Regions from separate parts of the Homo sapiens genome. Here region 1 is linked to region 2. A link means that fine-mapping ties the variant in region 2 to the plasma level of a protein whose gene starts in the linked region. Region 2 holds a variant in brackets. A gene starts in the other region. All regions are shown on their forward strands.

Region 1 (8,000 bases), not on the chromosome of region 2:
AAATGCTGACCACATGGGCTTGTGTCGACCAGATGAGGTCCTTCAGGTAATGCAGTCATAGCAGGGCCTGGGACGCTGACCTCAGCGGTAGGGAACCCCTGGGCGATGGGTTAGGAGAAAGGAGCCCTTGAGGGAGGCCTGAGAGCAAGCCCAAGCCTCCAGCCGGGGTGAGCCTAGAGGGCTTCCTGGAGGTGGAGTCTAGCCTGGCACTCAGGGTGGGTGGAAACTGATCGTCATTTTGCCCACAGGAATCCTCGTAGCCCACTACCTCCAGAGCATCACGCCTTGCCTGGCCCTGGGTGGAGAGCTGGTCTACCACCGGCGGCCTGGAGAGGAGGGCACTGTCATGTCTCTAGCTGGGAAATACACATGTGAGCCTGGCGCCTGGGTCCGAGGGTGGAGGGGCTGGGCCCCTGGACTCCTCCTGGGTCTGAGGGAGGACGGGCTAGGGCCCTGGACACTCAGGTCTGAGGGAGGAGGCCTGGGTTCCCAGATGCCCAAATCCCCTTGGTAATGAGACCCCGCCTCCACCCCACTCTCTGACAGTGAACAACTGGTTGGCAACGGTAACGTTGGGCCAGGCGGGCATGCACGCAACATACTACCACAAAGCCAGTGACCAGGTGAGTGGGTGCAGGGACTAGCTGGTGCTGCCAGGGGCTGCTGGGCCTGGAAGTCCAGGTGGGGCCACTTGCTAATTCTCATGTGTTGCTCCGGCCCCTCCAGCTGCAGGTGGGTGTGGAGTTTGAGGCCAGCACAAGGATGCAGGACACCAGCGTCTCCTTCGGGTACCAGCTGGACCTGCCCAAGGCCAACCTCCTCTTCAAAGGTAAAGGTCTCGGTTCCCCTACGCGGGAAACAGGCAGGAGGTGACTCAACTCTGAGTGGATGTGTGGGCCACCACAGGTGCTGGAGGACAGTGTGCTGCCACCCTGTGGGCCTCCACATTACCAGGGAACACTTGTTAAAAGGTAGGTGGGGCCGGGTGCGGTGGCTCACGCCTGTAATCCCAGCACTTTGGGAGGCCAAGGCGGGCCGAGGTAAGGAGATTGAGACCATCCTGGCTAACACGGTGAAACTCCGTCTCTACTAAAAATACAAAAACAAAATTAGCCGGGTGTGGTTGCGGGTGCCTATAGTCCCAACTACTGAGGCTGAGGCGGGAAAATGGTATGAACCCAGGAGGCGGAGCTTGCGGTGAGCCGAGATCGTGCCACCGCACTCCAGCCTGGGTGACAGAGCAAGACTCCATCTCAAAAAAAAAAAAGTAGGTGGACAACCCTCTACTATGTTTTATGCTTGGAAAAAAAAAGTAGGTAGAGCAGCCAGGCGTGGTGACTCACGCCTGTAATCCCAGCATTTTGGGAGGCCAAGCCAGGTAGAATACTTGAGGCCAGGAGTTGGAGACCAGCCTGGCCAACGTGGTGAAATCCCCTCTCTACTAAAAGTACAAAAATTAGCCAGGTGTGGTAGCGTGCTGCAACTGTAGTCCCCGCTACTTAGGAGGCTGAGGCACAAGAATCACTTGAACCTGGGAGGCGGAGGTTGCAGGGAGTTGAGACTGCACCACTGCACTCCAGCCTGGGTGACAGAGTGAGACTCCATCTCCAAAAAAAATAAAATGAAATAAATAAATAAATGTTAAAAAAAATCTGGTGGAGCATCTGATGGGTGTTTGGGCCAAGCTGGAGCTTTGTCCATCCCCTCTTATTTTTCTGCACTTGACTCTCTTATTTTTCTGAGACTGGTCTCCCTCTGTCGCCCAGGCTAGAGTGCAGCAGTGCAACTGCGGCTCACTGCAGCCTCCACCTCCCGGGCTCAAGCAGCCTTCCCACCTCAGCCTCCTGAGTAGCTAGGACCACAGGTGTATGCCACCAGGCCCAGCTAATTTTTTTGATAGTTTTGGGAGACATGGGGGTTTCACCATGTTGCCCAGGCTGGTCTCGAACTCCTGGACTCAAGCCTTGGCCTCCCAAAGTGCTGGGATTATAGGTGTGAGCCACCACACCCAGCCAGGGTAGAAGGCACTTTGGAAGCCTCGAGCCTGCCCCATTCATCTTACGTTAGTGGAAACTGAGGCTTCCAGAGGTTTCAAGGTCACAACTAAATCCAGAACCTCATCTCAGGCACACTGGTCGTAGTCCCAATGTCCAGTCTTAAGTCTTCTTGGATATCTGTGGCTCACAGATTTTGGGTGTTTGAGCCTCCTGCTGAGCACTGCTGGGGCCACAGCGGTGACCAGCCCTGTCTTCACGGGACTCAGTGAGAGGAACAGATTCATCCGCAGAGTGGGCAGGACTAGGTTGGGGGAACCCAGGGGTCTAGAGGGCTTTTCAGAGGGCAGGGGTCACTGAGCGGAGAGCAGAGGAGGAGTGAGCCATTTGCTCCAGCGTGAAGTTGTTGGTGTGATGGGGTTTCAGGGTGGCAGGAGCAGTGTGGTTAAAGGTCTGGAAGCTGTCGGCATGTGGCTGGTATCCAAGGTGGCCAGGAACTCTGCATGGATATGGTGGGAAGCTGGCACGCCTCTCACCTCAGCTCTTCCCTGCAGGCTCTGTGGATAGCAACTGGATCGTGGGTGCCACGCTGGAGAAGAAGCTCCCACCCCTGCCCCTGACACTGGCCCTTGGGGCCTTCCTGAATCACCGCAAGAACAAGTTTCAGTGTGGCTTTGGCCTCACCATCGGCTGAGCCCTCCTGGCCCCCGCCTTCCACGCCCTTCCGATTCCACCTCCACCTCCACCTCCCCCTGCCACAGAGGGGAGACCTGAGCCCCCCTCCCTTCCCTCCCCCCTTGGGGGTCGGGGGGGACATTGGAAAGGAGGGACCCCGCCACCCCAGCAGCTGAGGAGGGGATTCTGGAACTGAATGGCGCTTCGGGATTCTGAGTAGCAGGGGCAGCATGCCCAGTGGGCCTGGGGTCCCGGGAGGGATTCCGGAATTGAGGGGCACGCAGGATTCTGAGCACCAGGGGCAGAGGCGGCCAGACAACCTCAGGGAGGAGTGTCCTGGCGTCCCCATCCTCCAAAGGGCCTGGGCCCGCCCCGAGGGGGCAGCGAGAGGAGCTTCCCCATCCCCGGTCAGTCCACCCTGCCCCGTCCACTTTCCCATCTCCTCGGTATAAATCATGTTTATAAGTTATGGAAGAACCGGGACATTTTACAGAAAAAAAACAAAAAACAACAAAAAATATACGTGGGAAAAAAAACGATGGGAGGCCTCCGTTTTCTCAAGTGTGTCTGGCCTGTTTTGAGCATTTCATCCGGAGTCTGGCCGCCCTGACCTTCCCCCAGCCGCCTGCAGGGGGCGCCAGAGGGCCGGAGCACGGAAAGCAGCGGATCCTTGATGCTGCCTTAAGTCCGGCTCAGAGGGGCGCAGCGTGGCCTGGGGTCGCTATCTTCCCATCCGGAACATCTGCCCTGCTGGGGGACACTACGGGCCTTCCCTTGCCTGAGGGTAGGGTCTCAAGGTCACTTGCCCCCAGCTTGACCTGGCCGGAGTGGCTATAGAGGACTTTGTCCCTGCAGACTGCAGCAGCAGAGATGACACTGTCTCTGAGTGCAGAGATGGGGGCAGGGAGCTGGGAGAGGGTTCAAGCTACTGGAACAGCTTCAGAACAACTAGGGTACTAGGAACTGCTGTGTCAGGGAGAAGGGGCTCAAGGACTCGCAGGCCTGGGAGGAGGGGCCTAGGCCAGCCATGGGAGTTGGGTCACCTGTGTCTGAGGACTTGGTGCTGTCTGGATTTTGCCAACCTAGGGCTGGGGTCAGCTGATGCCCACCACGACTCCCGAGCCTCCAGGAACTGAAACCCTGTCTGCCCCCAGGGTCTGGGGAAGGAGGCTGCTGAGTAGAACCAACCCCAGGTTACCAACCCCACCTCAGCCACCCCTTGCCAGCCAAAGCAAACAGGCCCGGCCCGGCACTGGGGGTTCCTTCTCGAACCAGGAGTTCAGCCTCCCCTGACCCGCAGAATCTTCTGATCCCACCCGCTCCAGGAGCCAGGAATGAGTCCCAGTCTCTCCCAGTTCTCACTGTGTGGTTTTGCCATTCGTCTTGCTGCTGAACCACGGGTTTCTCCTCTGAAACATCTGGGATTTATAACAGGGCTTAGGAAAGTGACAGCGTCTGAGCGTTCACTGTGGCCTGTCCATTGCTAGCCCTAACATAGGACCGCTGTGTGCCAGGGCTGTCCTCCATGCTCAATACACGTTAGCTTGTCACCAAACATACCCGTGCCGCTGCTTTCCCAGTCTGATGAGCAAAGGAACTTGATGCTCAGAGAGGACAAGTCATTTGCCCAAGGTCACACAGCTGGCAACTGGCAGAGCCAGGATTCACGCCCTGGCAATTTGACTCCAGAATCCTAACCTTAACCCAGAAGCACGGCTTCAAGCCCCTGGAAACCACAATACCTGTGGCAGCCAGGGGGAGGTGCTGGAATCTCATTTCACATGTGGGGAGGGGGCTCCCCTGTGCTCAAGGTCACAACCAAAGAGGAAGCTGTGATTAAAACCCAGGTCCCATTTGCAAAGCCTCGACTTTTAGCAGGTGCATCATACTGTTCCCACCCCTCCCATCCCACTTCTGTCCAGCCGCCTAGCCCCACTTTCTTTTTTTTCTTTTTTTGAGACAGTCTCCCTCTTGCTGAGGCTGGAGTGCAGTGGCGAGATCTCGGCTCACTGTAACCTCCGCCTCCCGGGTTCAAGCGATTCTCCTGCCTCAGCCTCCCAAGTAGCTAGGATTACAGGCGCCCGCCACCACGCCTGGCTAACTTTTGTATTTTTAGTAGAGATGGGGTTTCACCATGTTGGCCAGGCTGGTCTCAAACTCCTGACCTTAAGTGATTCGCCCACTGTGGCCTCCCAAAGTGCTGGGATTACAGGCGTGAGCTACCGCCCCCAGCCCCTCCCATCCCACTTCTGTCCAGCCCCCTAGCCCTACTTTCTTTCTGGGATCCAGGAGTCCAGATCCCCAGCCCCCTCTCCAGATTACATTCATCCAGGCACAGGAAAGGACAGGGTCAGGAAAGGAGGACTCTGGGCGGCAGCCTCCACATTCCCCTTCCACGCTTGGCCCCCAGAATGGAGGAGGGTGTCTGTATTACTGGGCGAGGTGTCCTCCCTTCCTGGGGACTGTGGGGGGTGGTCAAAAGACCTCTATGCCCCACCTCCTTCCTCCCTCTGCCCTGCTGTGCCTGGGGCAGGGGGAGAACAGCCCACCTCGTGACTGGGGGCTGGCCCAGCCCGCCCTATCCCTGGGGGAGGGGGCGGGACAGGGGGAGCCCTATAATTGGACAAGTCTGGGATCCTTGAGTCCTACTCAGCCCCAGCGGAGGTGAAGGACGTCCTTCCCCAGGAGCCGGTGAGAAGCGCAGTCGGGGGCACGGGGATGAGCTCAGGGGCCTCTAGAAAGAGCTGGGACCCTGGGAACCCCTGGCCTCCAGGTAGTCTCAGGAGAGCTACTCGGGGTCGGGCTTGGGGAGAGGAGGAGCGGGGGTGAGGCAAGCAGCAGGGGACTGGACCTGGGAAGGGCTGGGCAGCAGAGACGACCCGACCCGCTAGAAGGTGGGGTGGGGAGAGCAGCTGGACTGGGATGTAAGCCATAGCAGGACTCCACGAGTTGTCACTATCATTTATCGAGCACCTACTGGGTGTCCCCAGTGTCCTCAGATCTCCATAACTGGGGAGCCAGGGGCAGCGACACGGTAGCTAGCCGTCGATTGGAGAACTTTAAAATGAGGACTGAATTAGCTCATAAATGGAACACGGCGCTTAACTGTGAGGTTGGAGCTTAGAATGTGAAGGGAGAATGAGGAATGCGAGACTGGGACTGAGATGGAACCGGCGGTGGGGAGGGGGTGGGGGGATGGAATTTGAACCCCGGGAGAGGAAGATGGAATTTTCTATGGAGGCCGACCTGGGGATGGGGAGATAAGAGAAGACCAGGAGGGAGTTAAATAGGGAATGGGTTGGGGGCGGCTTGGTAAATGTGCTGGGATTAGGCTGTTGCAGATAATGCAACAAGGCTTGGAAGGCTAACCTGGGGTGAGGCCGGGTTGGGGCCGGGCTGGGGGTGGGAGGAGTCCTCACTGGCGGTTGATTGACAGTTTCTCCTTCCCCAGACTGGCCAATCACAGGCAGGAAGATGAAGGTTCTGTGGGCTGCGTTGCTGGTCACATTCCTGGCAGGTATGGGGGCGGGGCTTGCTCGGTTCCCCCCGCTCCTCCCCCTCTCATCCTCACCTCAACCTCCTGGCCCCATTCAGGCAGACCCTGGGCCCCCTCTTCTGAGGCTTCTGTGCTGCTTCCTGGCTCTGAACAGCGATTTGACGCTCTCTGGGCCTCGGTTTCCCCCATCCTTGAGATAGGAGTTAGAAGTTGTTTTGTTGTTGTTGTTTGTTGTTGTTGTTTTGTTTTTTTGAGATGAAGTCTCGCTCTGTCGCCCAGGCTGGAGTGCAGTGGCGGGATCTCGGCTCACTGCAAGCTCCGCCTCCCAGGTCCACGCCATTCTCCTGCCTCAGCCTCCCAAGTAGCTGGGACTACAGGCACATGCCACCACACCCGACTAACTTTTTTGTATTTTCAGTAGAGACGGGGTTTCACCATGTTGGCCAGGCTGGTCTGGAACTCCTGACCTCAGGTGATCTGCCCGTTTCGATCTCCCAAAGTGCTGGGATTACAGGCGTGAGCCACCGCACCTGGCTGGGAGTTAGAGGTTTCTAATGCATTGCAGGCAGATAGTGAATACCAGACACGGGGCAGCTGTGATCTTTATTCTCCATCACCCCCACACAGCCCTGCCTGGGGCACACAAGGACACTCAATACATGCTTTTCCGCTGGGCGCGGTGGCTCACCCCTGTAATCCCAGCACTTTGGGAGGCCAAGGTGGGAGGATCACTTGAGCCCAGGAGTTCAACACCAGCCTGGGCAACATAGTGAGACCCTGTCTCTACTAAAAATACAAAAATTAGCCAGGCATGGTGCCACACACCTGTGCTCTCAGCTACTCAGGAGGCTGAGGCAGGAGGATCGCTTGAGCCCAGAAGGTCAAGGTTGCAGTGAACCATGTTCAGGCCGCTGCACTCCAGCCTGGGTGACAGAGCAAGACCCTGTTTATAAATACATAATGCTTTCCAAGTGATTAAACCGACTCCCCCCTCACCCTGCCCACCATGGCTCCAAAGAAGCATTTGTGGAGCACCTTCTGTGTGCCCCTAGGTACTAGATGCCTGGACGGGGTCAGAAGGACCCTGACCCACCTTGAACTTGTTCCACACAGGATGCCAGGCCAAGGTGGAGCAAGCGGTGGAGACAGAGCCGGAGCCCGAGCTGCGCCAGCAGACCGAGTGGCAGAGCGGCCAGCGCTGGGAACTGGCACTGGGTCGCTTTTGGGATTACCTGCGCTGGGTGCAGACACTGTCTGAGCAGGTGCAGGAGGAGCTGCTCAGCTCCCAGGTCACCCAGGAACTGAGGTGAGTGTCCCCATCCTGGCCCTTGACCCTCCTGGTGGGCGGCTATACCTCCCCAGGTCCAGGTTTCATTCTGCCCCTGTCGCTAAGTCTTGGGGGGCCTGGGTCTCTGCTGGTTCTAGCTTCCTCTTCCCATTTCTGACTCCTGGCTTTAGCTCTCTGGAATTCTCTCTCTCAGCTTTGTCTCTCTCTCTTCCCTTCTGACTCAGTCTCTCACACTCGTCCTGGCTCTGTCTCTGTCCTTCCCTAGCTCTTTTATATAGAGACAGAGAGATGGGGTCTCACTGTGTTGCCCAGGCTGGTCTTGAACTTCTGGGCTCAAGCGATCCTCCCGCCTCGGCCTCCCAAAGTGCTGGGATTAGAGGCATGAGCCACCTTGCCCGGCCTCCTAGCTCCTTCTTCGTCTCTGCCTCTGCCCTCTGCATCTGCTCTCTGCATCTGTCTCTGTCTCCTTCTCTCGGCCTCTGCCCCGTTCCTTCTCTCCCTCTTGGGTCTCTCTGGCTCATCCCCATCTCGCCCGCCCCATCCCAGC
Region 2 (8,463 bases):
CCAGGAGGCGGAGGCTGCAATCAGCTGAGATCACGCCACTACACTCCAGCCTGAGCAGCAAGAGTGAAACTCTGGTCTCAAAAAAAAAAAAAAAAAAAAAAAAAAAAAAAAAAAAATTAGCCTGAGGTGGGAAGATGGCTTGAGGCCGGGAGGCAGAGAATGCAGTGAACTAAGATGGCAGCACCACTGCACTCCAGCCTGGGCCATAGAGCCAGACCTTGTCTCAAAACAAGTAAGTGTAAAAATAAAGAGAAAATAATTCAAAATGGAAAGCTGAAGGACAAAAGGGCAAGGGCATTGCCTCATGAATAGGAGGAAGTGATACGTGTGAAACTTGGTGAGATTATTGACAATCTCACATTTGAACACGGGAGTCATCAGAAGGACTTTGCCTTGCTCTTCCTTGCCATACTTCACCCTTGCCTTGGTGTTTTCTGGAGGGTCCTGATGTTTCTTCCTCTGCCCAATACAAAGGGGAGTCTAGTGATTCAAGAACTTAAGAGCACAGAGAGGTGAACAGTAACTCGTAGCAGAGGCACTCAGGAATCCTGTGCACACACAGATGAACATCATGGGTTACAAATGAAGTCTTTTGGTCAAAATTAACTTTATTTTTCAACTTCATAGGGATGTGATAACAAAATTGGCACACACAAAAAGAATACTGATATTGGGCCTGATTTAAAAAATGCCTCTGGCCAGGTTGTAAAAAAGTGAAAGTAACAAAGATAAACATAGAAGTTGGAGTTGTAAAAAAGTGAGTTGGAATTCATGCTGCCATGATCTACTTGACCAGAGGCAGCTTTTCCTCTCTAAGCCTATTTTATATCTGTCAGTGGATTTGAGATCACTCATTTTACCATTGTAACATTCCGAGCCTTTTGTCACTGTGTGTCCCTTTGTGGCCATGTAAGAGACCACACTGCTGTAGGCTGAGAAGGCCACAGTGGTTCAGGTGCTTTGAGGACTTGGTCTTGGCTCAATAGAGCCTCACTGGTGTTTGCTCAGATTGGGCAGCCTATGCCCAAAGCTACTTGGCTAAACAGGCTGGTGACACCACACCCAAAAGGTGGCAAAGAATAGGAATAGGAAGGATCAGCACCTATTTTGGAGTGAGGAAGCCAATGGAGGTACAACTCCTCAATTCTAAGTTTTTGTTGTTTTTTTTTTTTTTGAGACAGGGTCTTGTTCTATCACCCCAGGCTGGAGTGCAGTGGTGTGATCTCAGCTCGCTGCAGGCTTGACCTCCTGGGCCCAAGTGATCCTCCTGCCTGGACCTCCCAAAAGTGTTGGGATTACAGGCATGAGCCACTGCATCCAGCTTGCTTCTAATTTTCCTACCCAGGCTGTTTTAAACCTAGTTCTCCAGCTAAGTAAAATGTGCCCAAATGGAAAACATCTAAATCTTCTGCAGCCCATTCTTCCTGTGTCTTTGTGTTGACAAACCTCTAATCTTCCATGTCTTTGTGTTGACAAACCTAACCTTCCATGTCTTTTTGTTGACAAACCTCTAACCTTCCATGTCTTTGTGTTGACAAACCTCTCCATGGGTGGTGCATCTGACCCTATCCCAACATGCCTTAGGACGCTCATCTCCTTGACTGTCTGCCATCCCCTCCCAAAACTAAGTGGAGGCTCTGTCTTTTCCTCCTAGTTTGAGGTTCTCTTCTCCCAGTGTCTAAAATGATCAATATGCCTAGAGTAGATGCTGCTGAAGAGGCAAAGTAGTAATCCTGCCACCTGGAAGCAAAGGCTGTGGGTTGGAGGGGGAAGCGGGTGTGAGGGCTGATGATAAGCCCTAGGAGGCTCCTGAGTCATATTCCTATGTTTGCTCTCTGGAGAGATGGGCTAAACTGTTTATCTTTTAAAAACCAGATGATTAAAAAGTTACATTTTAGTATTATACTGATAGGAATATAGGATAATCTCTTCTAAAGCCTATTTGGTTTCCAGAAGAGTTAGATACTTGAACAAGAGTGGACAGAGTAAGATACCTAGCTACAGCAATAGAAATCACAAACTGTTCTGTGGTTTTAATCTTCCTATTTCTGATTTAGAAGTATGAAGTGATCATATTTAATCTTTCTGCTCCTGCTCAAAAATAATTCTATAACATCATTTAGGTTATAGAAAGTTTCTACTTATAGCCCTTACATTCTTTATGACCGAAATCTGTGTCTTTCCTCATGACTGATAATTATCTCCCAATTTGGTCACTTCTGCTAATTGCTATTTTATTAAACTTGAAATTTTAGGTTGGGAAGCAAAGGGAAACCACTGGGCATCCCCTTTGTTTCTAGGGAGAAAAGACTAACTTGTCCCATCTGCTCACTTGCTTATGGAGCTAAAAGACCCCCAGTCCTAGAAGTGTTCTGTTCCTGAGGAGTGGTTAAAGAGGTGAAAAGAAGAGGTGAATTAAAAGATGAAAGAGCTTTTTAAATAGCCAGCAACTCTCTCTACCATCTGTTTTGGTAAGAGCTAGCACCTCTTGTTCTCTTTAGACCCTGGAGGGAATAAACCAAAATCAGTGGTTCCAGGATCCTTCAGAGCCAAAAGACCCCAATACCACAGTCTTGACCTTTGCCCTGCCTGCTTCTGAAACTGGAGAATGGCATCTCCCAGCAGCCTAAGGCAGACATAGGTCATACCTATCCCTGGGCAGCGAGCTGAGCTCCCACAGACTGAGTTGTGCTGGATCTCAGAATTCTAAGCATTAATGTTTCCTTGCTGTTATAATTCTTGCTCATCAGGTTCAACTGCCTTATCCCTCTGAGGTTTGCAAATGAGGATGGAGAAGCCACTGAGAAATGGACCAGTGAGCTGAGCTCACCTTTTATATGAGTGGATTTTTTTTTTTTTTTTGAAATGGAGTCTTGCTCTGTCGCCCAGGCTGGAGTACAATGGCGTGATCTCAGCTCACTGCAACCTCCACCTCCCCGGTTCAAGCGATTCTCCTGCCTCAGCCTCCTGGGTAGCTGGGATTACAGGCGCGTGCCACCACGCCCGGCATGAGTGGAATTTTAGTGTTAAATCTCTTCCTGACTCTGGGTTCAGTAGGTCCCTCCTCTTCTGTTACCCTCCTGGTTCTCTCTGTTCACCAACTACCTGCATGTGCCAAACTAGAAAAAGGAAATAATTTACACCCCTGCCCCAACAGCTCCTTCCCTCCTAGGGACTTCTGTGTCCACCCCCCACTTTGGGTCTTAGAACTGTGGCTAGAAGATAAAAGGGAGGAGTTTGAGTCAGAGGCTTTATGTCCCCAAACCCAACCCCCTCTGAGTATTAAACTATAGTGGCATTGTCCCTCAAGCTCCCCTCTGCCTTGGCTCCAGAGTCTTCCTCCTCTTCTTCCAGACTGGGCAGGGTGGCTGTTGTTATTGGTGAAGATAGGCATCTAGCCAGAGCTGCCCTGACTCCTTTAGTGAGCTGCAGGGACAAAATGGGGGCAGACAGTGAGGGAGACAAGCAGAGTTGAACCCACCGGAGATGGAGCAGTGAGGTTAAGGCCTTCTTCCATCTGGAGGTTTTCCTCCCCTCTACTTTAGAGAAAGCTAGCTTGGGCCATGGTACTGAGGGGAACCCCAATGAGGGCAAAGGCCTGACCTGGCCACAGGTCCAATAAAGAATCCTGCCTTTGCCATGGTGAACTCCATCCCACACGACTGGGAACACCTTCTGTTCACTCCCCACCCTACATGTCATCATTTCCATTGCCCTGCCCTCTTCCCTCCCTACTAGCCATCTTCCTGGTCTCAGATACTCACTGGATGATGTCGGCGAAGGCTGACAGCAGGGGCTTGGACTGGTACTCTATGCCATGCTTGGCACACAAGGACTGCACCAGGGGAGCCACTTTGTGGTAATTGTGTCGAGGCATCGTGGGAAAAAGACTTTAGGGAGAACGGGGGAGTCAGTGGTTCCTGCTTCTCTGCTCCCACCTGTACCCAACACTTACACCCTCCCCAGGACCCTGCTTCCCCAGGCTCCCTACTCACTGGTGCTCAATCTGGAAGTTGAGGTGTCCACTGAACCAGTCATTGAAGGCAGACTTGTGGACATTGCATGTGGCCTGGAGCTGGCGGAAAAGGTCAGGGGAGAGCATGTTGAATATCAGATGGAAAGGCCAGCCCAGCATTCTCCAGGTAAAGCTGGCTGAGGAAGGGACATGAGACTGTCTTGGTCACTCCCTTCACATGGTTGCAGAACAAGAGCCTCAGGCTAATGAGAAAATGCTGTTTGGGGGACTTTTTGTTTTTGCTGTTTTCACCTACGCATCCTTTTCAATAGTTGTGTTATGCTCCAGTCTTCTGAGTGACTGTCCCTTACCTGGGTGGAAACCCAGTCCATGTTCCGGTCATGATCAATGTGCATGGGAATATGGTTCATCTGTGTCACCCACACAAACCAGTTGCTTTCCAGGAACCTGTTAGATGTATTACACAGACAAAAACAGTACACACAGAGCCCAGAATTCTGATTCCCCCCTCAGATAACTGCTCCAGCCTGTCTACTTTCCCAAGCCAACTCCTGAAACACCCACTGTTACCCAAAGCCCCAGCACGGCCCCTAGACCAGACTGGTCACTCCCCAACATTTCCTTCACCAGTCCCTATCCGCCCCCACCGAATACTACCTGACTATGAAGAAAAGGCCCAGGAAGGCTTTCAGCCCCAATAGTGGCACATAAGTGAGGAAGAAGCGGACGTAGAAGGTAATCATCCAGGCCAAGTCCTATAGTGAGAAAAGCAGCGAGCATAACAGTCACGAACAACTCTTCCTCTTCCTCTCAGCAGCTCTTTGTTTGCATGGTGCAGCCATTCTCCTGGTTATCCAGACTCACTCATCTTCAGCTTCTCAGGGGTCCAATCCTGCAGTATCTAGTGCCACTGCTCCTTTCTTCCATTCCCATTGGCACCCCCCAGCCCTTCTTGCATGTCCCCTTCAAAAGTACCAAGGCCTACAAGGTCTCTTTGCCTCTAGCTCTTCCTAGCCAATCTAAATCCTTCAGCATGCCGCCAAATGAATCTGCCAGGACCATGGCTCAGTCCATGCCAGTGCCCTGATCAAATCTCTCATCACTGAACCAAGCACCATACTCTTCCCCTGACACTAGTCCTCCACAATATGTCTGGTGGTCAAACTTACCCCTCATTTCCAGCTTCTCTGCTCAGAGTTCATCCCCCCTGCTCCACCTCTGCCTGTCAGAAACCCTGCCCAGCCTCAAGGCCAGCTAGAAAAGTGACTTCACAAAGCCAGGTGCAGTCAGGCCCCTTTTGGAGTCCCCAGAACCTATTGCCTGTACCTCTTTTCTGATTAATAACCACATTCTGCTTCATCAGAAGTTTCCTTGAAAGTAGGTATTGTCTCTCATTCATCTTCCCCATTCCCAACTCAGCCCCCTGGCATTATGCCCAGTACAAGAACCTCTGGAGACACTGACCGCATGAAATTACACATTGGGAATCAGGCTGCCTGCTAAGCTCAAATCATTTCGTCCCACTTAGAGATAAGGAGGATCTGTGTCTGGTTCTATTATTTTGTTCTAAATTAGGCCTAGAGTCAGTCTCAAGTTTCCCCTGGGGAACCCCTATCCCCCACTCTGGGTGCTGGAGACAAGGATGTGGGCTTCTTGGGCCATGGATACTCACCACCCACTTCTTTCGCTGGATAACAAAATAGAAAATATACCACTGGAAGTAGAGAGGCAGCAAGGCTGGGGGCCCAACTGGGGAGGAAACCGAGACAAAGAGGAGGCATGAGCACAGGAAGGTCATGAAAGGGCCAGTTGATGTTGGGAGAGATGGCCTCTAGCAGGGGGCTGCCTCTTCCAACCATCCCTTCTGTCTCCCCTCCAGGTGCTTGAGTGCTCTGCAATCCACTGGAACCAGCAGGCACTGAAGGTGGGCATAAATCCAAGTCTGGGGAAGGCAAAAACTCCCAAGAGGATGCCAGGGAAGGTGAGGGGTGCGAGTGGCACTCTTCAGTGACAGGTGCTTGGGAACTCAGGCCCCACGCATGGGACTTGCTCTGCTCCCACACCTTTATTATTTTTCATTTTTCTTCTCTTTTCTACATACACACTCCAAGGATCCCACACTTTTAAAAGGGTGCTAATACTCTCTTACTTACCTTGGCCACAGCCCTGTCCCTACAGTCATCTGCCCTTTGTTCCTGGCAGCTCCACCATGCAGGTGAAGGGGCAGGAGCAGGAAAGTGTGTGTGTGTTGGGAGGGACCCTGTGGATCCTTCACAGGCTGTGAAGCTCACTTCCTTAAACTAGGGAGATGGGCTTGTGCCACCCCAATCTGAAGCCCTGGAGGTCAGCTGTGGGACGGAACAGAGGGGCCTCTCTTGAAAGAAAACTGGGAGTTGAAGAAGTGTTGCATTCTACATGCTTCCTCATTTCCTTTTCTGTAGCCCTTCTCTGTGGCACCTGATGCTACCCATAACTCCTAGCATGACAATGCTCACCCATGGCTCCTCCATCTTGATGTGCCATGGATTCTAAAACTATTTCTTCCAGAGGTCTCTGCTCTACCCTTCTGCCCCATCGCCTTTCTCTATTCGTGATAGTTGGTGATAGGCAGTTAGGATGAATTCCTTCAAACTAAAATAAGATCAGTGGACTCCTTCCCTTCCTTCTTTAAAAAATTTGAAAATTTAAAGGCGTTTAAAGCTCATTTTAGGCATTATGGAGCAGAGTTGTTGTTGTTTTAAGAAACAAGATCTCACTCTGTTGCCCAGGCTGGAGTGCAGTGGCACAATCGGAGCTTACTGCAGCCCCAAATTCCTGGGCTCAAAGGATGGTCCCACCTCAGTTTCCTTAGTAGCTGGGACAGACTTTTAAAGCTGGGAATATGTGGCAGTCATCAGAAAGATCTTCTTCGTTCTAACAGCTCTTCCATTCTCTCCTCAGGACCCATCCTTCCAGAACTATCTGTACCTTTGTTCCTCTGGGGGTTGGACTGGGCTCTACCAGGTTACCTTGGCCCATCTTGACAAAGTTTAAGATAAGGTTGAGGGGCCGGGCG[C/T]GGTGGCTCACGCCTGTAATCCCAGCACTTTGGGAGGCCGAGGCGGGTGGATCATGAGGTCAGGAGATCGAGACCATCCTGGCTAACAAGGTGAAACCCCGTCTCTACTAAAAATACAAAAAATTAGCCGGGCGCGGTGGCGGGTGCCTGTAATCCCAGCTACTCGGGAGGCTGAGGCAGGAGAATGGCGTGAACCCGGGAAGCGGAGAGCTTGCAGTGAGCCGAGATTGCGCCACTGCAGTCCGCAGTCCGGCCTGGGCGACAGAGCAAGACTCCGTCTCAAAAAAAAAAAAAAAAAGATAAGGTTGAGGATAAAGCAAGAGGCCCCTCTACACCCCAAACACCCAGCTTCCCAGTGGAAACTGGGGTTGGATGGGAAGAACTAGTTTGCCTTCAACCAATCATCAGCCTAACTTCACTTCGCTCAGCTGAGATGGCAAACTGCTGTCATGCAGGGAGTAACTGGGGGTGGGAGTGGGGTACTTCCTCTAGCCCCTTTCCTTAAAATACCATAATCCCTTGGACAGCCACATCCTCCTCATTCCCTCAGCATTCCCTCCTGAGGCAGCTCCCCTGTGTTGGATGGGGACACTCACTTAGGAAGAAGTATTTGTGCTGGTGGTTGTACGGCATATATTTTTTCTTCTGTTTCCCAAGCTGTGAAGAAAAGCAAACACATGAGCATTCGGAGACCAGTGATTCCTCCCTCTGTGACTTGACCTTTCCTTGCTTGGAGGTTTAGGCCTCCTCCAGGGCTGACAGCTTGTTGGTGCTATTGGAAAGCTCCAAGAGGCCCAGCCTTACCTCCAGCACATGGAACATGAAGCCCTAGACTGTAATCTGCAGAGTGTGTCACACCATGGCCTGCAGCTGGATGGCCCATGCTCACATGAGGGATGTGCACAGCACAGAGTCTACAGGACCACAGGCCCTCTTGTGTTCATTCTCTTTGTCATGAGGTTTCCAGGCCCCACTGCCCTCTCCCCTTTCTCCCATCGTACTTTTTTGTTTATTTTTTAGACGGAGTCTCGCTCTTGTTGCCCAGGCTGGAGTGCAATGGCACGATCTTGGCTTACCACAACTTCTGCCTCCCTGGGTTCAAGCGATTCTCCTGCCTCAGCCTCCCAAGTAGCTAGGATTACAGGCATGTGCCTCCACGCCCAGCTAATTTTGTATTTTTAGTAGAGATGGGGTTTCTCCATGTTGTTCAGGCTGGTCTTGAACTCCCAACCTCAGGTGATCCACCCACCTCAGCCTCCCAGAGTGCTGGGATTACAGGTGTGAGGCAGTGCGCCCGGCCGCCATCGTACTTTTTCACACCAGAATCTCCATGGACAACCATATCTGCCCCTATACAGGTTAAGTATTCCCTCTATATCCAGCCCCTAATTCTCCCCATCAAAATCTTTTGGTCTCTTGACTTAAACATGAG

Which allele goes with the higher level. Positions count from the first base shown, and alleles are read on the strand shown. Strength reflects both the effect of a copy and how common the allele is.
As copies of C replace T in region 2, the plasma level of the protein whose gene starts at base 5,315 in region 1 goes up (weak association).

What was found. A credible set is the group of variants that fine-mapping cannot tell apart. PIP is the chance, under the fine-mapping model, that this variant and not a neighbour inherited with it causes the effect. Protein levels are from antibody-based Olink assays in UK Biobank. Linkage for the fine-mapping came from a reference panel and not from the study's own genotypes, which makes the PIPs less certain.
Region 1: APOE starts here. The variant in region 2 is the best candidate, but not a certain one, in a credible set for the plasma level of the APOE protein (UK Biobank, PIP 0.56).

What each region holds. Positions count from the first base shown.
Region 1 is chr19:44,900,482-44,908,481 of GRCh38, forward strand. APOE (apolipoprotein E) reads left to right here and starts at 5,315. Exons shown (of 4, transcript NM_000041.4): 1 at 5,315-5,360; 2 at 6,121-6,186; 3 at 7,279-7,471. The coding sequence starts at 6,144. TOMM40 (translocase of outer mitochondrial membrane 40) reads left to right here. Exons shown (of 9, transcript NM_001128917.2): 6 at 249-371; 7 at 547-623; 8 at 727-829; 9 at 2,549-3,208. The coding sequence ends at 2,688. RefSeq lists enhancers at 4,632-5,434, 6,237-7,039.
Region 2 is chr11:61,799,037-61,807,499 of GRCh38, forward strand. FADS1 (fatty acid desaturase 1) reads right to left here. Exons shown (of 12, transcript NM_013402.7): 6 at 7,628-7,688; 7 at 5,649-5,725; 8 at 4,634-4,731; 9 at 4,327-4,423; 10 at 3,996-4,075; 11 at 3,765-3,890; 12 at 591-3,426. The coding sequence ends at 3,375. Among named protein-coding and RNA genes, the nearest start is that of FEN1, 10 kb to the left of the region's middle. The variant C/T (reference allele first, on the strand shown) is at 7,032.